Regions from separate parts of the Homo sapiens genome. Here regions 2 and 3 are each linked to region 1. Evidence: fine-mapped expression QTL. A gene starts in region 1. Each other region holds a variant in brackets. All regions are shown on one strand. Distances are between the middles of the regions.

The links. PIP is the estimated chance that this variant, and not a neighbour inherited with it, causes the effect.
Region 2: its variant is fine-mapped to the expression of CD2BP2 in whole blood (INTERVAL, PIP 0.99).
Region 3: its variant is fine-mapped to the expression of CD2BP2 in whole blood (TOPMed, PIP 0.98).

The regions. Positions count from the first base shown.
Region 1 is chr16:30,352,016-30,359,920 of GRCh38, forward strand. It overlaps CD2BP2 (CD2 cytoplasmic tail binding protein 2), which reads right to left and starts at 3,293. Exons shown (of 7, transcript NM_006110.3): 1 at 3,197-3,293; 2 at 2,589-2,692; 3 at 2,169-2,307; 4 at 1,886-2,043; 5 at 1,353-1,785; 6 at 1,166-1,272; 7 at 1-1,080. The coding sequence starts at 2,666. The coding sequence ends at 970. TBC1D10B (TBC1 domain family member 10B) reads right to left here. Exons shown (of 9, transcript NM_015527.4): 5 at 7,712-7,826; 6 at 7,523-7,588; 7 at 7,157-7,346; 8 at 6,648-6,802; 9 at 5,087-6,558. The coding sequence ends at 5,929. It overlaps CD2BP2-DT (CD2BP2 divergent transcript), which reads left to right and starts at 3,419. Exons shown (of 2, transcript NR_184233.1): 1 at 3,419-3,605; 2 at 4,278-7,905. RefSeq lists enhancers at 2,307-3,258, 2,343-3,542, 3,233-3,527, 3,259-4,210, 3,265-3,324 and 1 more.
Region 2 is chr16:30,409,139-30,417,043 of GRCh38, forward strand. All of the region lies in intron 2 of ZNF771 (zinc finger protein 771), which reads left to right. Among named protein-coding and RNA genes, the nearest start is that of ZNF771, 5.5 kb to the left of the region's middle. RefSeq lists a silencer at 438-527. The variant C/T (reference allele first, on the strand shown) is at 3,419.
Region 3 is chr16:30,399,469-30,407,373 of GRCh38, forward strand. ZNF48 (zinc finger protein 48) reads left to right here. Exons shown (of 3, transcript NM_001214909.2): 3 at 1-640. Among named protein-coding and RNA genes, the nearest start is that of ZNF771, 4.2 kb to the right of the region's middle. RefSeq lists a silencer at 7,862-7,905. The variant C/T (reference allele first, on the strand shown) is at 4,810.

The sequences.
Region 1 (7,905 bases):
AGGCCCAGGCTATAGAATTACATCTGTCTATTTCCCATGCCCCTGCCACCAGACTCTGAATTCCTGGAAGGGGACCAACCCAGCTACCTCAGTTTCCTCAAGGCACTAGCCCTGTGCCAGGCACATAGTGGGGTCCAGAGAATGTAGGCCGCAGGGCCTCCAAGGCCAGGCAGCAAAGGCTTTGTGCCAAGAAAGGTCTGGGAAAGGAGCCCACTGGGTCTGGGCCAGCCCTTTGATTCCTGTGATCTCCAGTGAGTCACTGCCCCTCTCTGTGCCAGTACAATGCACACTTGGCCCACACTTGGCCACTGAGTTTGCACTTCACTGAAGGGCTGTGGGAACGACGGCAAGGATAGAGGAAAGCCAGATTAGGGAAGACACTGGCTCTCAGAACCTTAGGGATCTCGGTCTTGGGCCACTCATCCCACTTCTGCCCAGCATCTAAGGAGCTTGAGAGGGTGAAGCGAGAGTAAGAGGGTTCCATGCTCACCCCCAACAGGGTCCCAATGTCTTCTCGATGCCCTGGTCCTTCTGGGCCTAAAACATCCACTTCTGGGGCTCTGTCCTCTGGTGGCTACAAGGATAAAGAATCTGAGGTCCTGAAAGCCAAAGACCTAAGAGGAATCGAACAAGAAACCTGGGAGAGGAGCACAGAGCAGCGCAGTTGGGGGTGTTTACACGGCAAGCAGAGTCCAGGCAGGGAGGCCACAGGATACCTGACAGGCACCTCCAAGAAGGATCTTCATGGGAGTACTCAGGGACCAAGACAAGTCCAAAGGGACTGTGGAGAAGGCCCCTGGCTTCTGGCCATCAGCACAGCCAAGGCCCCAGTACACAACTAAAGGCTTTTATTGGGAAAGGGAAATTGACTGAAAAATGGCCTCCAATTTCCTCGCTGCCTGAGACACTTGGTGCCTCCTCCACAAAGTCCAGGAAAGAAGGGCCCACCAAACTGGGCCCCCAGCAGGCTCAGGTGTAGAGGTCAAAGTCAATGCGTTTGGAGTTGTAGAACTGACCACCAGGGGGGTCCAGCTTCCGGCAATAAACACCGTCCGGGAAGTAGCCTTCACTCACCCAGGTCTGCAAGGAGAGGGCAGAGCTGGGGAACAACTGACAGGAGTGGGGGAAGCAGGGACAAGGCAGGAGGAGGGAGAAAGCAGCTCACCTGCATCTGGGCGCTGGTGAAGGGCCCATACAGCTCGGCATCCCCCGTGTTCTCCCACTTATATTCCCACATCACATCCACCAGACCATCTCCCCGCGACTCTGCTTCTAAAATAACAGGCAAAGCCATTTGGCCTCCAGTGTCTCACTTCCTACCCACTGCCCCCTCCTCTGTCCTCCAAGCTCACCTCCTCTCTGGGTAGGGGTTGGGGTCTCCAGTTCCTCCTCCGCCAACTCCTCAGCGAACATGTCCAGGGAGGGTGGGGGTGTGGGATTGTGGGGTCCTAGGGTCTGACACCCCAAACCCTTCAGACGCATAGCCAACCGTTCCCTTGTTTCCTGGTACACACCAAGGTTGCCCCGGGCCACCATCTGGTCGGCCAACCCGGAGAGCCGGTCCAGGCGCTGAGGGGAACTGGGTTGCCCAGGCCCCTTTCTCCCTTTGCCTCCTCCTCGGGCCCCCAGACGCCTCAGTGCCCCAGCCACTGTCTCTCTAGGCAATAGGAGCTCCAAAAGTCCCTCCAAGAGGGCTTGGGCACTCATTGAGGTCTGGCCCAAGCTGTCCTCCTCCTCCGAGTCTGAGGCCTGGCGCTGGCCAGGTGGCCGCTCCCGGATCTTCACCTGTAATGGGAAGATGGAGTGATTTCCCACCAACTGCCACGGGAGCAGGCCCAGCATCTGCCACTCCCAGGCCCCAGCCACGCCAGCCCCTGGGCCGCACCCAGTCAATGTTGTCCAGCCAGCTGTCTCGGATCTGAGCATCCCGGTTCAGGAAGTAGTTGCCATCGGCATCAAAGTGGCCTTCCTCCATCTCCTCCTGCAGGTTAAAGGGTGTGATCCGAACACCCCCCTCGCTGGGGAGTGTGGCTGCCTCCTGACCTGCACCAAAGACACAGGTGCCCTTTTCCAGGCATGGAAAAAAGAGACCGGAGCCTCCCTCGCTCCACACCACCAGAGGCCCCTACTTGTTTTTCCAGCAGAGTGTATTCTTGGGTACAGCTTACCTTCTACATCCTCTGAGGCCAAGATGTCATATTTGCTGGACCCCCCATCATCATCATCCTCCTCCTCATCGCTATCCAAAGAGTGTTTGCCTTTAAAGCGGCTCCCAGGACCCCCTGACCCAGCCACAGGGTCCACCAGCTGTGAGCAGGAGCCAGAAAGTTGAGAAATGCAGGTTACTGGCTACCTCCCCAAATACTTCCGGATCTGGACCCAAATATTCCCCAAATATTTCAGGATCTCGACTACTTCCCCAAATATTTCAGGAGCCACACTAAAGACGCTCCCAACCCATTCCTCAGAGAACCTGAAAAAACTAGGCTTTTCTCTGCCTGCCCGCCCCGCCCCTCTCCCGCCAGCTTTCTTCCTCTTCAGGCTTCTAGCTCCTCTTTCCCCCACACAAAGCAGTCTGGCCCCCTCACCTTCTTCTTGGGGACAATGATTTCATCCTCATCCTCCTCATCTCCCACGCCTTGGAAGGTCACTTTCCTCTTTGGCATGACGGGGCAAAGAGGTGTTTCTCAAGCTGAGGAAAGGATGCAGAGGAAGGGAACCGGGTGAGGAGGGGACTCGCCAACAGACGCAGCACAGCAAACATTTTTCCTGGTCTGTGACAGGTACAGTTTGGGAGCGGAGGGAGCACAAAAGCAGGGGCCGAAAGGAAGCTGGCAGCCAGGAGGCCTCCAGGACTTGGGTCTAGCATCCGCGAGTTAAACGGGGCGGGGACGGAGGAGCGGACCCTCTGGATCCCCCGACCCTGGCTGAAAGGAGACAGGCTTCACCACGTGACCGCCCCCAACTCCAGCCCCCGCAGTCTGCGCGCCACCGGCTCCACGGGCTGACCCCCGCTCTCTACCCTGGCTCTCTCGGAGCTCGCCGGGCCCCGGCAGACCCAGGACCTGGCGCTCTCGCCACCCCGTTCCTCCCTGCTCCGAACTCCCAATTCCGTGTGGTGAGCCCCAACTGTCCCGGGCTGTGTACAACTTAGAGGGCCACGGGGATTCGGGCGGTCCCACCCTCGCGCACTCACCTGGGAATCCGCGGAAGGCGAGGTGGAAAAAAGAAGAGATGCTTGCGCCAGGGCTACATCCGGGGCACCCGGCCGCCATCACCCGGAAGAGGACTGCGGAAGGCGCCCGGGAAGCCCGGAAGTGGCTTCACTCGGGTTAGGGAACTAACTGGAAGAGCGGGCGGAAGTATGCGATAAGCGAGCGAAGACGCCTCCACCCTCTCTCCCGCCAGAAGTGACGTCAGTCACGTGGGAGGACAATGGTGAGAAGAGGGAACCTAAGAATTCCTGGACTCTGACTGGGCGTGAGAAATGGCCGGAAGTAGCTTCGAGTCCGTCATTCAAGCAGTAGAGGCTCTGGAGAAAAACTGGAGCGCATCTGCTTAAAGGGCCGCCCAGGGTCAGGATGGAGGGGCAAAGTCCGAGCAGGGTCAGTGGGTTGCTGCTCCGTTTTCCTGTCCTGGGTTCAAGTCACCCTTCCCCCAGGGCTAAGGGCTCAGCGCCCCTACCGTCTCGTTAGAAATCCTGCCTTCCCATTCCTATGGTCCAGTGGTCAGCCCTCCTAGCCTGAGAGGTGCAGCCTTGCCTCTCCGAGGGGAAGCCTGACTCTCCCGATGGCCAGCCTGGGGCCCCTGGACGGCTCTCCGGGCACTTTCTGAACACACCTCCCTTTAGGACCCAGGGGAAATAATTTGTCCCACGCCCATACCCTGGGCGAGTTCCTGGTTTCTGAGGTGGGAGAGCCATCACTGGAGAGGTGGCATTGGCGCCAGTACTCAGGCCAGAAGCCCCTTGTGCCCTGCTCTCAGGTAGGCCTGGAAAAGGGCAACAGTGCCTCTCTGCAGCATGAAGCCCCCCTGAGCAAACAGGGCCTAGCAACTCCTGCCCAGGTAGCGGAATGTGGCCCAAGCAGAAGGGGGAATTGGGGAGGTAGCGGGGATCAGCCCCTGTGCTGGGACCCCTAGCTCTTGACACTCGGAGCCTGCATCCCCCTAAGCCAAGACTGTGCGCAGGCAGCACGTGCTGAAGCCAGACGAGGACAGCATGAGAGTTCCCCTACTCTTCCCCCAGGCAACTAGATGGGCCACTTCTCTCTCCCTAGGGGTTTCCTCCCATATTGGATCACGATGAAAACTGCACAGAAAGTCCGTGCTCAGTTTCTTCCATGGTTACAGAACACAGGCCCCAGACCAGGAAGGCATTCTGCTAAAGAAGGGGACCCGAAACCTCAGCTACCAGCGCCGATGGTTCATCCTCCGAGGAAACCTCCTCTTCTACCTAGAACACTAGACCGACCATGCACCCCTGAGCCTCATCCTGTTAGAGAACTGCCAGGTGGAACCACACCTTAAGGCTGCAGAACCCTATGCCTTTACCATCCTGACCCCTGGGGTGGAGGGCACAGGTGGGCGGGCCTACAAGCTGGCTGCAGAAACCCAGGAAGAGCTGGAGACTTGGCTGTGGGCACTGGCTGGCGCGAGCTGGAGGCGGCTGGCTGGGCTGCTGTCCCCCCTCCCCCCCCACCAAAACCCAATACTGGGAGCTGTGCCAGGCAACTGGCCAAGAACCCATCTCATCCCCAGAGGACAGTGGCTTTCTAGCCACTGTGAGTACCCCCTCCAGCTTCCAGGAGTTGCATGAGCACTTTGGGAAGGAGATCCGGGTGCTGCACGTGGTACATAGAGAGCTCCAGGCAGCCAGTGACAATGGAGACAGCAGATCCCAGGCAAAGATGGAGCAGGAGCTCAACCAGTGTCTGATGAGTGACTGAGAGATGGACCCAAAGCTAAGAGGTACCTACTTGCCAAGACAGCAGACTGCTTCAACAGAGACCCAGGTCCTGGCTCTGTCCCTCCCTCCCTCGTCCTTACCCCATCCCCCCCTCATCAAATAACAAGGCAGAAAACAGGCCCAGGTACAACAGCAGGTTCTTTTCCAATTCCTCAAAGCGCTGCATGGGGTGGGGGCAGAGACAGAAGAGAATGTAAACATTGGGTTCCACCCCCTGGAGCTCAAGGGAAGACCCTTACCCAGATAGGGACTAACTGGAGGGGTGGAAGGGAACAAGGTGAAAGGTATGGGTCCTGGTGAGACAAAAGCAGGGGGGCCTGAGAACACAGAGCAAGGTGGGTTTGGAGGGAGCACAGCAGGGTGCAGGAAGGGAGATGGGGGACATTTCCTATTCCAGTGCATGTCCCCTTAAATAAACTGGGTACAGGAGCATTATGGAAGGAGAACCAAAGGACAGAAGACAAAGCGAGCACCCCCACCCCAGGCCAACGCCATCCTCTGTACACAATTACAACACAGGTCCAGAATGAGAGCCCTGGCCAGGAAGTGGGGGAGACAGGGAGGGCTGAAGACAGGGAAAAGGAAGCCAGCTCCACCTCATGGTAAGGGGAGCTATGGAGTGTAAGAATCTGAAACTGCTGACTCCCATCACCAGGAGTCACCCCTGGGATGACAACGGGCCATTCAGGACAGCACCTAGGAGGGGACCCAGAGGGAACTGGGGCAGGAGCGACAGAGACCCCAGCTGAGCCTCATGGGAGATGAGAGGCTCCAGACTCATTTGCAGCTGCCCATCTGTCCTGCCCGTGTAGGGATCAGCAGCTGGCGAGGAGATGGGGAACCAAGCCACTTTCCCCAGCAAGGGACAGCCTGACAAGGTGCTAGGGGGTGGCACCTTGGGCCAGGCCTGTTCTTGGCTGAGGGAAAGAGGGGGGCCATGCAGTCCAGCCCCAGGGCAGAGGTCAGAAGTAAGCGTCCTGCCGGGCCTCGGCTGAGGGCCTGTCCCCACCATCATGGGGGCCTGGGGGCCCATCTGCCTTTCGACGCAGCGAAAGCTTCCGGCCTTGAGCCTTCTTCTCCTGCTTCTGCCGCTCCTTCTCCTGCTTCTCTCGCTCCTTTTCCTGCTTCTCTCGCTCTTTCTCCTGCTTCTGCCGCTCCTTCTCCCGCTCCTTCTCCTGTTTCTGCCGCTCCTTCTCCTGTTTCTGCCGCTCCTTCTCCTGCTTCCGGGTCTCCTTGCTGGAACCCAAGGGGGTGCTATTGCCAGTGGGTGAGGGAAGGGATGGATGCAGTCCCTCAGCAGTGACCACAGGCCCTGGGGCAGGCCCAGCACTGGCTCTGCGGACGGGGGGCGGCGGGGACGGGGCCCCTCCAGCTGCCCGGGAGCCTCGGCTCTTGAGGCCAGGGAGGCTGAGGAGGCTGGAGGAGGGGCCCAGGGGTGGCTGTTGCCGCCGGCGCTCCTCGTGGATGGCCCGGGACCCATGCAGTCGCCGTGAGGGCCGATACTGCAGCTCCCCCCGCGTTTCCCGCCACTTCTTGAGCTGGGCTGCATTCTCCCGCTCAATCAGTGCTTCTGTCACCGGCAGATTGGTCACCTGCACAGAGAGGAAATGCGTACCAGAATGGAGCTGAGGGTGGGAGCGGGCTGAGGCAGGCAGGGGCTGCGTTGAGGGCACAGGCCTACCTCATGCACCAGGAAGTCTTCCTGCATGCACTGCTGGGGCAGGTTACGCAGCTGCTCCATGGTCTCATACATGCCTTGGCAGGAGCGCAGCTTCTCCACTGAGCCCAGCGTGTGGCGCAGCAGGACCAGGGCCACCCGGAAGATGATCTTAACGCCTGCAGGGGTGGAGAGTAGAGAGCATGGGGTGGTCAGACCCAAGATCTCAGCCTGTCCTGATCAGGATAGACTCACAGCCCCCATCCCCATCTACTGCCAATCTCAGATGAGGAAACTGAGGCCCTGTGAAAGTACATGAGCTGCTATCAGTCTCAGGATCTTGGCAGGGAGAGCAGGCTCTGGGTTGGTGGCAGAACTAAAATCAGGCCTGTTTCTCCAGCCCCCAGCTGCTTATGGTGAAACCTCCACCCAACAAGTACCTTTTGTCCATGGACCACCAGAAATATGACAGAACCCCTGGTAGCCACCACAGAAACCCCAGCCCCTCATGGCCTGGAGGGCCACAGAAGTACCTTCACAGAAAAACATGTCCCAGACACGCAGCACCGACGCCCAGGGCAGGGTGCGGGCGAAGATGCACATGAACCACTCCGTCATGTAGAGCACAGGGTCAATGCGCTGCCGCCGCAGGTGGCGATGCGCCAGCGGGGAGGCCCGGCGCAGGAGTGCAAAAAAGATCTCCCCGTCCAGCTGAATGGCCTCCTGCAGGTGGGACAAGCCATGAGAAGAGGGCCAAGTCAGCTGTGCCCCCATCAGGGGAGAACTGGCCGGCCCTGTGGGCAGAAGCCGGGAAGGCCAGGGTGGGGCAAGGCAAGGACCTGCCTGCAGCCTGGAGGAAACGCCACAGCCCCGGATGCACCCAGCCTCCAGACACTCACCAGCCCTGCACTGTAGTAACCTGGGAGGTACTTGTCGCAGATCTGCACCAGGCACCAAAAGGCTTGCTGAGAAGAGCAAGAACAAGGAGGAGGGGTGGGGCCTGAGAAGCAGGGAGCAGGGAGCTCCCCCATCACCACTGTAGGGTGAGATCCCCCCTGCCCCTCCCGGCCCAGGACCAGGGCGCTGACCTCCGCAGGCATGTGCATGAGCAGGACCGCAGCCACGGGGGCCTGGGCCTGGCAGTAACCCTCGTCAGGCCGGTAGATGGTGTAGGCCTTCAGGATTCGGTACAGGTCCTGTTGCCTGTGGGGGTTGGGGAAGACTGTGAGGGCAGTCACGGGCTGAGAGCTCTGTCCCCAAACCCAGTTCCAGATTCGTCCCA
Region 2 (7,905 bases), 57 kb after region 1:
TAATTTTTTGTATTTTCAGTAGAGTTGGGGTTTTGCCATGTTGGCCAGACTGGTCTCAAACTCCTGAGTTCAGGTGATCCTCCCACCTCAGCCTCCCAAAGTGCTGGGATTATAGGTGTGAGCCACCGTATCCAGCCAGAAATGGCCCTTATAGAGGCTCAGACGAGTGAGTAGTGCACTGCAGCAGTGAGGGTGGGTGGTTCGGTCATGCTGTAGTGTGGATGAGTGGGGGTGGTTGGCAGGCCACACAGGGAGTCTGGCTTTTATTCTGAGGGTATTTGAAGGTTTTGAGATCAGAATATGAGTTAAATTTCACCCCCTGGAGACCCTAACTGCCACCAGATACGTTTCCGCTTCTCAGAACCCCAGAGGATTCTGTCTGCCCCCAGCCTGAGCAGCCCTGAGTACCAGCAGAGGGCTTTGGCCCCAGGGACCCAGCTTGCAGGGGCCGGGACTCTGATTCTTCCTGCCCAGGAGCCAGTTCCCAGGGAAAGAATGCTCTGCTGCCCCCTAGTGGGCCTGCTGGGTGCTGGGGGAGGGGACTAGCTCCTTAGGCCTCTGGATAGTCTAATAACTATCTGGTTGTGTTTGTTGCGGGCCCCCTTCGCCCATTATCCAGCTCTGCCTGCCTCTTCTGGCCCTGCGATTGCCTGATCTCCACCTTTGGCCTCTAAGTTACAAACACAGGCTCCAGAGCTTAGGGTGGACTTCCAGCTCCATCATTTACCCGCTGTGTGACCTTGGCCAAGTTTCCTAACCGCTCCACGCCTCAGTTTCCTCATTTGTAAAAGGGAAATTATAACAGCACCTACATCTTGGAGTTGTGAGGAATGAATGAGTCAACACATGCACAGAGTTAGAACTGTGTCTGGCACAAAATAAACACGGAAATAGTTGCTGTTACATTTATTCTTCTCCCCAAAGCTCAGGACCTTGGGCAAGGTCATCCTTCTTGAGATTTTTCAACTTTTTTTTTTTTTTTTGAGACGGAGTCTCACTATGTCGCCCAGGCTGGAGTGCAGTGGCGCAATCTTGGTTCACCGCACCTCCACCTACCGGGTTCATGCCATTCTCCTGCCTCAGTCTCCTGAGTAGCTGGGATTATAGGTGCGCACTACCATGCCCAGCTAATTTTTGTATTTTTAGTAGAGGTGGGGTTTCACCATATTGGTCAGGCTGGTCTCGAACTCCTGACCTCATGATCCGCCCGCCTCGGCCTCCCAAAGTGTTGGGATTACAGGCGTGAGCCACCACGCCTGGCTCAACTCATTTTTATCAAAGGCCTGGGCTGAACCATGAGAACTGGGGTTGATCAGGGAAGTGAATGTGGGGGCACAGAGGATTGAAGACAAACGACTCAAGGCAGTGGGGAAGGCTTCCCAGAGGAGATGATTTTTGACTTGGGCCTTGAAGGCTTTGCAGGGGTTTGGCACATGGAGGAGGAGGAAGGGCATTCCAGGAGGAGGAAACAGCAAAAACAAAGACTCAGAGGAAATGAGACTGGAAAGGCAGTTGGGGGACAGAGGGGCCTTGCAAGCTAGGGCAGGACGTACTGTGTTAGGTTCTGTGGCACCATAAGAAGCCTTAAATCATGGGAAGAGCCAGGCGTGGTGGCTCACACCTGTAATCCTAGCACTTTGGAAAGCCAAGGTGGGAGGATCACTTGAGCCCAGGAGTTCGATTCCTCCCTGGGCAACATAGGGAGACCTCATCTCTACAAAAAAAAAAAAAAAAAAAAAAAAAAAGTTTAATTAGCTGGGCATGGTGGCATGCCTGTAGTCCTAGCTACTCTGGAGGCTGAATGATCCCAGGAGTTCAAGGCTGCAGTGAGCCATGACTGCACCACTGTACTCCAGCCTGGGCAACAGAGAGAGACCCTGTCTCAAAAAACAAAAACAGGCCAGGCGTGGTGGCTCATGCCTGTAATCCCAGCACTTTGGGAGGCTGAGGCGGGCGGATCACTTGAGGTCAGGAGTTCGAGACCAGCCTTGCCAACATGGTGAAACCCCATCTCTACTAAAAATACAAAAATTAGCCGGGTGTGGTGGCACCTGCTTGCAATCCCAGCTACTTGGGAGGCTGAGGCAGGAGAATCGCTTGAATCTGGGAGGCGGAGGTTGCAGTGAGCTGAGATTGCACCGCTGCACTCCAGCCTGGGCAACAGAGCAAGATTCCATCTCAAAAAAAAAAAAAAATCAGAGGAGGGACATGATTGGATTTTCTGTTTAGAAGAATTATTGGCTGCTACAGGGAGCCCAGGCCAGGTAGGGCCTGCTCTAAGGTAGTAACAGCAATGATGAGGAAAAGGGGCCATTTAGGAACCTGGCTAGAGCCAAGGGGTATGTGCGGTGAAGGTCTGACATGGCTAGTCATGAAAGGCACACAGGGCCAGATTGTGAATGGTATCATGTAGCGGTCGTAACTCCACCGTTTACCAGCTTTTCTTTGGCTTTCTCATCTGTAAAATGGGGTAATAGAGTAAGACCCCTGAATGCCAGTCTGAGAAGTGTCATCAAGGTGACTAGATTTGGAGGAGATGGGTGGAATTGAGGATTATGCACACATATCCCATGAACTGTTAGCATCGTGCCCAGAAGGGTGCTCGATCGTTAGCTTGCTGTGGGCCTTCCTGAGCCTCATTTCTCCATCTATGAAATGGTGACCTCGAAAACACCTTCCAGTGGTGACATTCAGTGAGTCCTAGCTATTGCCAGTCCTGTGGCCAGTCACTGTCCAGAAGGGCCTTAATTACGCTGCATGCAGGGGCTGGAGTATTCTCCCTCTGCCATCAAAACCCAATCTATCTTTTAGAAAGATTTTCTGAGGGCTCCATGCACATCCAAACCTATCTTTCCCTGGCTTGAACCCTTGAGTGGTTTTCTGTTTCCCTCAGGGTGAGGTCTCAGCTCCTAAACTTGGCATTCAAAGCTCTTTACCATCTGACCTCATGCCATTCTGGCTTCATCCCCTCGACACCTATCCCATCCCCCCTTGTGGTCTCAGCCCGCAAAGCCCTCTTCACCTTTGCTCCCTGCTTTCTCCAGGAGTAGCTCTTTTCTCATCTAGATCAGTTTCTTAATTTTTAACATGCATACAGATCACCCAGGGGTCTTGTTAAAATGAGGATTTTAATTCAGTAAAATCTGGAGTGGGATTTGAGATTCTGCATTTGTAAAAAGTTCCCAGTGATGTTGATGTTGCTGGTCTGTGGACCACACATCCTCCAGCAAGGAACTAGAAGACAGTGGTTGTGTTTAATAGTTTGTGCCAAAATGAAGGAAGACTGTGACCGCAAAAAGGGGCCAGGGGAGGGAGACAAGCTGTGTAAGTGGCCTCAAACTCTAGTCAGTGAGATTAGAATTGCATCATGGAGGCTGGGCGTGATGGCTCTTGCCTGTAATCCCAGCACTTTTGGAGG[C/T]TGAGGCAGGAGGATTGATTGAGCTCAGGAGTTCGAGACCAGCCTGGGCAACATGGCAAAACCCCATCTCTACTGAAATACAAAAATTAGCCGGGTGTGGTGGCACACCCCTGTAGCGCCAGCTATTTGGGGGGTTGAGTCAGGAGGATTGCTTTAGCCCGGGAAGTCAAGGCTGCAGTGAGCCGTGATCATGCCACTGCATCCAGCCTGGGTGACACAGTGAGACCTTTTCTCAAAAAAAAAAAAGAGAATAAAAAAAGAATTGCATCATGGTTAAGAGAATAGGTGTTCTGGAAAATGAGTAAATTCAGTTCAAACCCTGGCTCTGCCATTTATTAGCTGAATAGCCTTGCCTTGTGTAGTCACTTAACTTCTGAGTCTTATTTCCTTATATATAAAACAGGGCTAAGGTACCTAACGAAAGCCATGGCGAGAATTTAGAAAGACAGTACTGGTAAAAAGCACTTAGCACAGTTCCTGGCACATGGTGAGTGCCCAACAAGTGGGAGTTATTTTATTAATTAGAGAAGTAATGGCTAAGGAAGAAACTGGGATGTTTGCTCTGGTTAAAAAACATTTAAGCAGGAAAACAAAAATCACTAACTTCTAATACCTGGATTATTATATTATTACACTACATTGTATGTTCACAGTAGCCTCCTGTTATAGTGCAAATACCATTTATTCTAATTTTTAAATCTAATAGTTGTAGAATTTAAGACATGCTTGGGCCATTAATGATCACCTAGTCTGGTATTTGCCAAGTTTCAGTCACATGTGTATTGCTCATATGTTGTACTCACATTATTTATTAATGTTTTTCTTCAAATAGATTCACATTGTTTTGTTAAATAAATGTACCTTCATCTAAACAATAGTACTGATGAAATTGTGGGTTTCATGTGATATCTTGTTTTTTAAATATTCGTGAAAATAAATGTGTAACAATTATGAGACTTTTTTAAAGTTTGCCCACATACCACCTTATACCTCATGCTGGGAAATTTTGGGTTTTTTTTTCTTTTTTTAGAGACACGATCTCGCTTTGTCACCCAGGCTGGAGTGCAGTGGCACGTGATTGTAGCTCACTGCAGCCTTGAACTCTTGGGCTCAAGTGATCCTCCTTCCTCGGCCTACCAAGTTGTTGGGACTACAAGTGCACCCCACCACACCTGGCTAATTTTTCACTTTTTGTAGAGACGAGGTCTAACTGTGTTGCCCAGGCTGGTGTCCAACTCCTGGCCTCAAGTAATCCTCCTTCCTTGGCCTCCCGAAGTGCTAAGATTACAGGTGTGAGTCACTGCACCTGGCCTCATACTGGGAATTTGATCTCACTTAGCCTACCTGGCCTTTCTCGGGACACTGGGGCAGAGGAGGATCTTAATGAGCTGGATTCAGCTCCTCTTACCAAGATTTTTCCTCGGGCATCCAAGGCCCCTTCTCCTGGGCTGGAGACATCAACAGTGCTTGTATGGAGAATTTCTTTTTCAGAAGTCAGTGAACTCAGCATGAGGAAGCCCTCAGGCTGTCCAAAGTCACCTGAAAGAGGGTGCCAAGGAAAAACGGGCCAGAAAAATGTAGATCTGATGAGACAAGTTCTCTCCACAGTGGCTGATGTATTGAAATAAACCAATAGATTTCAAAACCAGGGCAAGACTGGAAAATGTGACCTTGAATTCAGATGGTACCAAACATACTGTGGGGAGTTTCTCCATTTAAAGTATCAAGTTGTATTTTAACCTTGAATCCCTCTTGGAGTGTGCCAGGGACGTGGAATCCAGCCTCTGTCACATCTTGGTCACGTGAGTTCAGAACAGTGTAGCCTGAATGACGGCATGGTCTCATGGGCACCCTGAGTCCATCCTGGCTCCCACTGGCCATGTGAATTTCATCGCCCTCAGCCTCAGCTTTCTCAGCTATCAAAAGAGAGAACACCCAGCTCAAGGCGGGTGACAGGAGGATTTAATACAATAACATACATAGTGTTGTCAAAGCTTAATACTTTGTTATTGATTGTTGCTATTGTTATCAGTATAGATACTATTTAAACCAGATTTCTCTTGGTCACTAATTTTCTAAATTGCCCTGTTTTCTAATTTTTTTTTTTCAACGGAGTCTCGCTCTGTTGCCCAGGCTGGAGTGCAGTGGCGCATCTCCGCTCACTGCAAGCTCCGCCTCCCGGGTTCATGTCATTCTCCTGCCTCAGCCTCCCGCGTAGCTGGGACTACAGGCACCTGCCACCACGCCTGGCTAATTTTTTGTATTTTTTTAGTAGAGATGGGGTTTCACCATGTTAGCCAGGATGGTCTCGATCTCCTGACCTTGTGATCTGCCCACCTCAGCCTCCCAAAGTGCTGGGATTACAGGCGTGAGCCACCGCGCCCGGCCTCTTTTTTTTTTTTTTTTTTTTTTTTTTTTTGAGATGGAATCTCACTCTGTTCCCCAGGCTGGAGTGCAGTGGCATGATCTCAGCTCACTGCAACCTCTGCCTCCCGGGTTCAAGTGATTCTCCTGCCTCAGCCTCCTGAGTAGGTGGGATTACAGGCATGAGCCACCACATCCAGCTGATTTTTGTATTTTTAGTAGAGACAGGGTTTCACCATGTTGGCCAGGCTGGTCTTGAACTCCTGACCTCAAGTGATCCGCCCACCTCGATCTCCCAAAGTACTGGGATTACAGGTGTGAACCACCACGCCTGGCTTATTTTCTAATTTCTGAGTTGGTTACCACAAAGCCACTACCTTTTGACAAACTATCTTGAAGGCCTTGAAGTTGCCCTCCTGCAGCTTCAGAAACAGAAGGCCCTACTATTTTCTGCTGTCACCCTTTTTTTTTTTTTTTTTTTTTTGAGACGGAGTCTTGCCGTCACCTAGGCTGGAGGCAGTGGTGCAATCTTGGCTCACTGCAACCTCCACCTCCCGGGTTCAAGCAGTTCCCTGCCTCAGCCTCCCGAGTAGCTGGGATTACAGGCGTCCGCCACCACGCCCAGCTAATTTTTGTATTTGTAGTAGAGACGGGGTTTCAACATCTTGGCTAGGCTGGGCTTGAACTCCTGACCTCGTGATCCACCTGCCTCGGCCTCCCAAAGTGCTGGTATTACAGGCGTGAGCCACTGCACCTGGCCTTGCTGTCCCTCTCTCTTCACCTGTCTCCCCATCTGTAAAATAGGGATGATGATAATTACCTCGTGGAGATCGAATATGGGAGAAGCTGACACTGTCTTGTCCTTAATATGCCCCAGGCACTTCATTTGGTCATGAATTAATTGCTTGGCCACAGTAGATACGCGACATCAGTTTTGCTGGGGTTTTGAGCGTTCTCTTTTCTAGGAAGGGAGCAATATGCCCTCAATACTCTTCACTGTTAGTCCAGAATGTTTTCCCTTCATGTGCCTCTTAGAAGGCATTTCTTTCCTTTTTCTGATTTTTATCTCTAAAAGGCCAGAGCTTGTGAAACTGGCTCATTTTCAGATTGTTTCATTTCAGACCTCAGAATAACATTTGGCTTTTACCCTTGCCTTTTTCTTCACTGCTTAAAAAATGATAGGTGTTTGCTATTCAAAGCTGATTAAGAGCCTGGACTTGGTCCTGGCCTGGCTTCCAGGATGCCCCTCTCCTGCTCTCCTCCCTCCCTGGCTTCTCCCCATCTTGCTGCCCTAGGTTCTGTCTGCCCATCCCCTGGATGATCTCATCCACTCATTCTCAAGGCTTTATAAACCATCTATAGGTTGACAGCTTCTCAATTAACATCTCCAGTCTAGGCCTCGCTTCTGAGCTCCAGATATGTCAAGAAGCCGTGACACCATCCAAAACAGATCTCCCCTCTCAACTTGCTCCTCCCACCGTCCTCATCTCTGTAAATGGCAACTCCACCTTTGCAGTTGCTAAGCTCAAAAACCTTGAAGTCATTTTGATCTCTTTTTCTTCACACCTCATATCTAATCTCTTATTAAATCTATTGTCTCACACTGCAAATAGATCCAGAAGCCAATCACTTCTCACCACCTCCACCATCCACCGTCCACTTCTGTCACCTGGGTATGAGCCACTATCTTCTCTTGCCAGGTGGCTGTAGTGGCCTCCTCACTGGGCTTCTGCTTCTGCTCTCTCCAACTCCTTCATTTGGTTTTCAACCCCAGTAGCCTGAGGGGAGCCTTTTTAAATGTGTAGGATATGGTCACTTCCCTGCTCAAAGCCCTCTGACATCTCCTCTTACAGGTCCCTGTCTCCTTTATAATAAAAGCCAGAGCCAGGCACAGTGGTATGTGCCTGTAACTCCAGCTACTCAGAAGGCTGAGTCAGGAGGGACTGCTTGAGCCAGGAGGTTCGGGACCAAGCCTGGGCCACGGCAAGACCCTGTCTCTTAAAAAAAAAAAAAAAAAAAAAAGCCAAATATAACAAATACAAGGCCCTATATGCCAAGAGATCTCCACCACTACATCCGTGACTCCCCCCATCATGCATTCTGCTTTAACCAATTTTTCTTGC
Region 3 (7,905 bases), 47 kb after region 1:
ACACCTGTAATCCCAGCAGTTTGGGAGGCTGAGGTGGGAGAATCACTTGAGCCCAAAAGTTTGAGGCTGCAGTGAGCTGATTGCACCACTGATGCCTCCCAACCTTGCTCTGGGAGACCAATGCCTGAACCAGGGTTTGTTTACCTTCTGAGCTGCAGAGATGGGGCTTCTGGAATTTAAGGTAACAGGATGAGGCAGGGGTATCTTGATCATCCGGATGGGGCAAATACTGCTGTGTGGCATGGTGGTACCCACCCCTATGGAGGGGCACTCTTGGACAGAGCCCAGACCTTTGTGCCCTGGAGGGAGCCAACCCACCCTGACACGGAGACACTGGCAGAATAGACCAGAGACAGAAGGTGCTCTCATGGTATCCAGCCTGGATGCCAAGCCCAAGTCCTGGTGGATAGCAGAGGCCAGCTGTTTGGGAAAAGGGCAGGATGCTCTGAGGCCTGGCAGCCACATTTCCATGTGTCTTTTTACCAATAAACGGCTTCTCTTCTGAGGCTTGGACAGTGTGTGTGTACACACAGGCATGAAAAAGGTGGAGAGGGGTCTCTGCGCGCAAAACTCAGACTGTAAATTTTGTGTGCTTCCCTTGCTCTCTGAGCCCATTAAATAAAGAGGTTGTCTTGGCGTAGTCAGCGGCTTTCTAGCTCCGACGTCTGGTTCAAAAACGGCCGCCAGCTCCATCAGCCGATGCCCCAGGCCTGAGGTCTGGCTGCCCGCAGGCACCACCTACGCCACAGCATCCAGCGCGACCCTTAAAAGGAAAACCGCGCGGCGCTGCAGAGACAAGGCAGCAAGGAGGAGGAAGAGGGGGCGTGTGGGGGGCGTTGTTGCTATGGCGACGGCTGTCGGCGGGAGGCAGCCCACAGGTCTGGAACCGGCGTGGAAAGCCCGGACGCCGGCGCGCCGCCCACCGGGACCTGGGAAACCCGACACCCGAGACCCTTTTTATGCGTCGGGAAATGAGTCATTCGGCTGCACAGCCCAAAGGGAGGGCAAACGGTGCTCCTTCACCCCCAGAAAAGCCCGCCGGATTTCCCGGCGCCCCGCGGGGCCTGGGAAGCAGGTCTGCAATCCCTAGCGTTTTCACAACCACTGGCCTGATCGGCCAGGGATTAAAGAAAAAAGAAGTCCAGGGCGGTTCTCCCCGCTAAACAATGAAGGCAACGAAGTACAGGGTCGCAAGTTCCCGCCCCCGGCTCTCCCCGATCTCCGTGCGGAAAGAATCCCTGGACGGGTTCTCGCGAGATCGTAAGCACTGGCCTGGCTTCCCTAGAAACCGACCAGGGCTGGCTGCAGTGCGGCTCCTCCCGCTCCGCCCGCCCTTTCCAAATTGATGCGCTCTCAAAACCCTAGAACCCTGCGTTCAGGGCTGGGGCTCTTGATGGCCTGAGCGGAGCCCTTTGGGGCTTCTGGAAGTTCCTTCTTGCTGGTTTTCCTAGCTCCCTTCCCTACCAGTGTGCCCTCCAAGACGACCTGCAGTGAACTTTCTTTTCTTTTTTTTTGAGACGGAGTCTCGCTCTGTCGCCCAGGCTGGAGTGCAGTGGCGCGATCTTGGCTCACTGCAACCTCCGCCTCCCGGGTTCAAGCGATTCTCCTGCCTCAGCCTCCTGAGTAGCTGGGATTACAGGCGCGCTACCAAGCCCGGCTAATTTTTGTATTTTTAGTAGAGACGGAGTTTCACCATGTTTGTCAGGCTGGTCTCGAACTCCGGACTTCGTGATCCGCCCGCCTCAGCCTTCCAAAGTGCTGGGATTACAGGCGTGAGCCACCGCGCCTGGCCACTTTCTTTTCTTGATTTCTTTCTTTTTCTTTTTTCTTTTTTTCTCAAGACAGGGTCTCACTCACTCTGTCGCCCAGGCTGGAGTGCAGTGGCAGGATCTTCGGCTCACTGCAGCCTCCGCTCGGGTTCAAGCGATTCTCCTGCCTCAGCCTCCCTAGTAGCTGGGATTACAGGCGTCCGCCACCGCGCCTGGCTAATTTTTTTATTTTTAGTAGAGACGGGGTTTCACCATGTTGGCCAGGCTGGTCTCAAACTCCTGACCTTAGGTGATCTGCCCGCCTCGGCCTCCCAAAGTGCTAGGATTTATAGGCATGAGCCACCGTGCCTGGCCTGCTTTCTAAAATTACATCTGGCCATGTCACTCCCCCATTGAAACCCCAGTGGATCTCCACATGCTGTCCCCAAAGCCTAACTTTCATTGGCACTCAAGCCCTTCCATTTGTGTAGTTTCAGCCCTGGGCTCCTTAAATGTCGTTTCTTTTACTTGGAATGCTCCTCCACCACTACCCACCCCTTGTTAATCTCCTCTGTCAAAACACCTCAAGCACTACTTCCTCCAAGAAGCCTACTCTGACCCTCGTCTGGGTTAGTTACAATCCCCTTCTCTGAGCAACCCGTCTCTGAGCACCTAACACATGAAGAGCTTCTTGAGGATAGTTACTCACTCAACAGCTGCACCTATTGTGTGCTGCATACTGGGATAGAAAGATAAACAAGACAAAGTCCCTGACCTGTTTTTATGCGGGAGATAGACATTGAACAAATAATTACAAGTGAGGTGAGAAATGTCCAGCAAACCTATGAGCTGGAAAGAATCCTCTGTGATCCAAAGGCCTTTCCAGGCCAGGTGTGGCTCAGGCCTGTCATCCCAGCATTTTGAGAGGTTGAGGCAGGAGGCCAGGAGGCCAGGAGTTCGAGACCAGCCTGGGCAACATAGTGAGACCTCTCTACAAAAAATACAAAAATTAGGTGGAATGCACCTGTAGTCCCAGCAACTCAGGAGGCTGAGGTGGGAGGATCGCTTGGCCCCAGGAAGTTGAGGCTGCAGTGAGCCATGATCATGCCACTGCACTCCATCCTGGGCAAAAGAGCAAGATCTTGTCTCCAAAAAACAAAAACGACCCCCGCCACCACCAGAAAATACTGTAATCCCAGCTACTCGGGAGGCTTGAGGCAGGAGGATCGCTTGTGCCTGGGAAGTCAAGGTTGCGGTGAGCTGTGACTGCACACTGCACTCCAGCCTGGGGGACGGAGTGAGACCCTGTCTCAAAATATATATATATATTTCCACAAACTACTGCCTCCTTGCCAATCTGGCAAAGTCCCACTCATCTTTAGTTTTTGTTTGCTTGTTTTTTTTACAGATGAGCTCTCACTATATTGCCCAGGCTGGAATACAGTAGCTATTCACAGGCACATAGTGCACTATAGCCTTGAACCCCTGGGCTCCAGCAGTCCTCCTGCCTCAGCCTCCTAAGTAGCTGGGACCATAGGTGTGCGTCACCACACCTGACACCCACTCATCTTTCAAGGTCCTTCACAGTTACCTTCTCAGTGAGACCAGCACGAAATACCTAATACCCCCGAAAGAGTGGTTCACTTACCCCACTCTTCTCCTGCTAGAACACCCTGTTATCCTTTTCTTATATCACTCATACTGTATATTTAGAGATCTATTTTAAATCAGAAGCTTCTTTTTTTTTTTTTTTTGAGACAGAGTCTCACTTTGTCACCCAGGCTGGAGTGCAGCATGCAATATCGGCTCACTGCAGCCTCAACCTCCCAGGTTCAAGTGCTCCTCCTGCCTCAGCCGCACAAGTATCTGGGACTACAGGCACGTGCACTATTATGCTCAGCTAATTTTCTTTTTTTTGGTGATTTTTGTACAGACGGGGTTTCACCACGTTTCCCAGGCTTGTCTCCAACTCCTGAGCTCAAGCAATCCACCTGCCTCAACCTCCCAAGGTGCTAGGATTACAGGTGAGAGCCACCACGCCCAGCCCACAAGCTGCTGCTGCTGCTGCTTCTTCTTCTTCTTCTTCTTCTTCTTCTTCTTCTTCTTCTTCTTCTTCTCCTTTTCTTCTTCTTCCTCTTCCTATTCCTCTTCTTCTTCTTCTTCCTCCTTCTCCGTCTTCTTTTTTTTTTAAGACAGGGTCTTGCTCTGTTGCCCAGGCTGGAGTGCAGTGGCACGATCTCAGCTTACTGCAACCTCCACCTCCTGGGTTCAAGCGATTCTCATGCTTTAGCCTCCCAAATAGCTGGGATTACAGGCGTGTGCCACCATGCCCAGCTAATTTTTGTATTTTTAGTAAAGACAGGGTTTCGCCATGTTGGCCAGACTGGTCTTGAACTCCTGACCTCAAGCGACTACCCACTTTGGACTCCCAAAGTGTTGGTATTACAGGTATGGGCCATTGCTCCTGGCCCCAAAAACTTATTTTTTTTTTTTTTTGAGACAGAGTTTAAGCAATTCTCCTGCCTCAGCCTCCCAAGTAGCTGGGACTATAGACATGCGCTACCACACTAGGCTAATTTTTGTATTTTTAGTAGAGATGGGGTGTTGGCCAGGCTGGTCTCGAACTCCTGACCTCAGGTGATCCACCTGCCTCAGCCTCCCAAAGTGCTGCGATTATAGGTGTGACCACCGCGCATGGCCCAAAAACTTCTTTACTAGACTATGAGATCCTCAAGAACATGAACTAGATCGTATTGCAAGTAGATACCTGTACATGGTTGCAGGGCAAATCGATGGAGCCCTTTACCTTCTTTTTCCAAGTTCCTATTTAAAACAGCAGGAGGCTCCTTCCAGTAGGGACTTTCACTGCCAGAGACAGGCTCCTGGCTGAGTCTCCTCACTGATTCTCTCTTAATCAGAGCGAGATGCTTTGCTTTCGCTAGAGGTTGGGTTCTGGCCAAGTTTACCCTCTGCCTACCTCTCCTCCATCTCCCTTGCTACATTTCCCCTTGTTCACTCCCTTGGATGCTCAGATCCAGCAACACAAGTCTTCTTCCTATTC[C/T]TCAAACACACAAGCTTCTGCCTCAAGGCCTCTGCAGTTCAGTCTCAAACACTCTTCTTCCAGATTTTCAAATGGCTAACCCTTTCTCATCATTCAAGGTTCATCTCAAATATTGTATCCAGGCCGGGCGCGGTGGCTCACGCCTATAATCTCAGCAGTTTGGGAGGCCGAAGCAGGTGGATCACTTGAGGTCAGGAGTTCGAGACCAGCCTGGCTCACATAGTGAAACCCCCTTCTCTACTGAAAATACAAAAAATTAGCCAGGCATGGTGGCAGGCACCTGTAATCATAGCTACTCGGGAGGCTGAGGCAGGAGAATTGAACCCGGGAGGCAGAGGTTGCAGTGAGCCAAGATTGCGCCACTGTCCACCAGCCAGGGCGACAGCTGGAGACTCTGTCTCAAACAAACAAACAAAATATTGTATCCAGGCTGGGCATGGTGGCTCATTCCTGTAATCCCAGCACTTTGGGAGGCCAAGGCAGGCAGATCACTTGAGGTCAGGAGTTCAAGACCAGCCTGGCTAACACGGTGAAACCCTGTCTCTACTAAAAATACAAAAAAAATTAGCTGGGCGTGGTGGTGGGCGCCTATAGTCCCAGCTACTTGGGAGGCTGAGGCAGGAGAATGGTGTGAACCTGGGAGGCAGAGCTTGCGGTGAGCCGAGATCGCACCACTGCACTCCAGCCTGGGAGACGGAGCAAGACTCCGCCTCAAAAAAAAAAAAAAATTAGCTGAGTGTATGGCGCGCACCTGTAATCTCAGCTACTCGGGAGGCTGAGGCAGGAGAATCCCTTGAACCCGGGAGGTGGAGGTTGCAGTGAGCTGAGATCATGCCACTGCACTCCAGCCTGGGTGATAGAATGAGACTCCATCTCAAAAAAAAAAAAAAAATTGTATCCTGAGACACCTTCCCTGCCTGCATTAAAGAAGCCCCTGTTACCATAGCTGCTCCCTGTTGGATCATCTTGTCAGATTTGCCCCGTTGCACCTATCATTATCTGATATTATCTTCCTCTTTACATGTGTACATTTGTTTGCACCCTTAGTAGTGTCACAAGAGCCACTATTTTTATCTGTTTTGTTCACTACTACATCCCCCATACCTAGAAGGGTGACGGGTATATAGGACTCAATAAATACCCAGAGAGGCCAGGCGTGGTGGCTCAAGCCTGTAATTCCAGCACTTTGGGAGGCCAAGGTGGGTGGATCACGAGGTCAGGGGTTTGAGACCAGCCTGGCCAAGATGGTGAAACCCCGTCTCTACAAAAAATACAAAAATAGCCCGGTGTGGTGGTGTGTGCCTGTAATCCTAGCTACTTGGGAGGCTGAGGCAGGAGAATCACTTGAACCTGGGAAGCGGAGGTTGCAGTGAGCCTAGACTGTGCTATTGCACTCCAACCTGGGCGACAGAGCAAGACTCCATCTCAAAAAAAAAAAAAAAAAAAAAAAAAAACTCAGAGAATGAATGCAAAGTGGCTTTTGGGGATCCTGTGTGTGAGTATCCAGGCATTTGACCCCTTCTCCCAGCTCTGGGAAAGAGCCAGTTTTATAACTTCATTCCTGAGAGGTAATTTGGTGCAATAGAAGAGCACAAGCTTTGAATCTGCTGCTTGCCAGCTGTGTGACTTTGAGCAAATTACTTAACTTGTCTAAGCTTCCGTTTCTTCTTTTGTCCAATGGAGATATTATTGATCCCAACAGGGCTGTTGTAAAGAGACAACATAGAACTTGTAAGCACTTACTGAATGTTATTTCTGTTTTCCTTCATGATTTCTGAATCTTAGTTGCCCCATTCATAAAATGGGAAAATTAGATATCTGCTTTTTCAAGGGAAGTGGCTGTTTTTCAAAGGAAGTGGCATTTGTTTATTCCACTAAAAAAAAATCTATTTTTATATGAAATATCCCAATTTAATTTTTTTTTTCTTGAGACGGAGTTTCGCTCTTGTTGCCTAGGCTGGAGACCAATGGCATGATCTCGGCTCACTGCAACCACTGCCTCCCCAGTTCAAGCAATTCTCGTGCCTCAGCCTCTCGAGTAGCTGGGATTACAGGCATGCACCACCAAGCTTGGCTAATTTTTGTATTTTTAGTAGAGACGGGGTTTCACCATGTTGGTTAGGCTGGTCTCGAAATCCTGACCTCAAGTGATCCACCGGCCTCCGCCTCCCAAAGTGCTGGGATTACAGGCATGAGCCACCGCGCCCGGCTTTGAAACGATTTTTTTTTTTTTTTTTTTTTTTTTTTTTTGAGACGGAGTCTCGCTCTGTCGCCCAGGCTGGAGCGCAGTGGCGCGATCTCGGCTAACTGCAAGCTCGCCTCCCGGGTTCACGCCATTCTCCTGTCTCAGCCTCCCGAGTAGCTGGCACTACAGGTGCCCGCCACCACGCCCAGCTAATTTTTTGTATTTTGTTTAGTAGAGTCGGGGTTTCACCGTGTTAGCCAGGATGGTCTCTATCTCCTGACCTCGTGATCCGCCCGCCTCGGCCTCCTAAAGTGCTGGGATTACAGGCGTGAGCCGCCGTGCCCGTCCGAAAAGATTTTTTAAAAGTAAAAATACCCTAAGGGCCAAACAAGGTACCCCTGTGGACTGGATTTAGCTTTGGGCTGTTGTTCACCTAGGCTACTGATTGTCAGGGATGCTATGACATCCTTATCGTGTAACTTAGGCAAATCAGTTTACCTCCCTGAACTTCAGTGAGCTCATCTGTAAAATGGATCAGGACCCATCGTTATGCGGATCAAATGAGACCAGGTATGTAAGACGCTGAACAGCGCTGGCGCATGGTAAGCACCCCACGCATGACGCGACAGCGGTAGCTTGGGTGGATGTTGAATTGGTTAGGATGTATTCAAGGATATCCCAGAGGCCAGCGGAATAGGCGAAGCCGAGAAAGATGGAGAAAAGACGGCAGAGGAGATAAAGAGGGAATGGAAGAAGTGAGGAGGCAACAGGGTCCGCCCTCCAGGCGGGGCGCCAGGGAGAGGCCCAGGCCGGGGCGGGAGCGCACGTGGCCTATTTCGGGCGGAGCAGAGGCACTGGGCGCAGCGGAGACCTCCAAGCCGGCCCCAGGAGACGGGCCGCGAGGTTAGGTT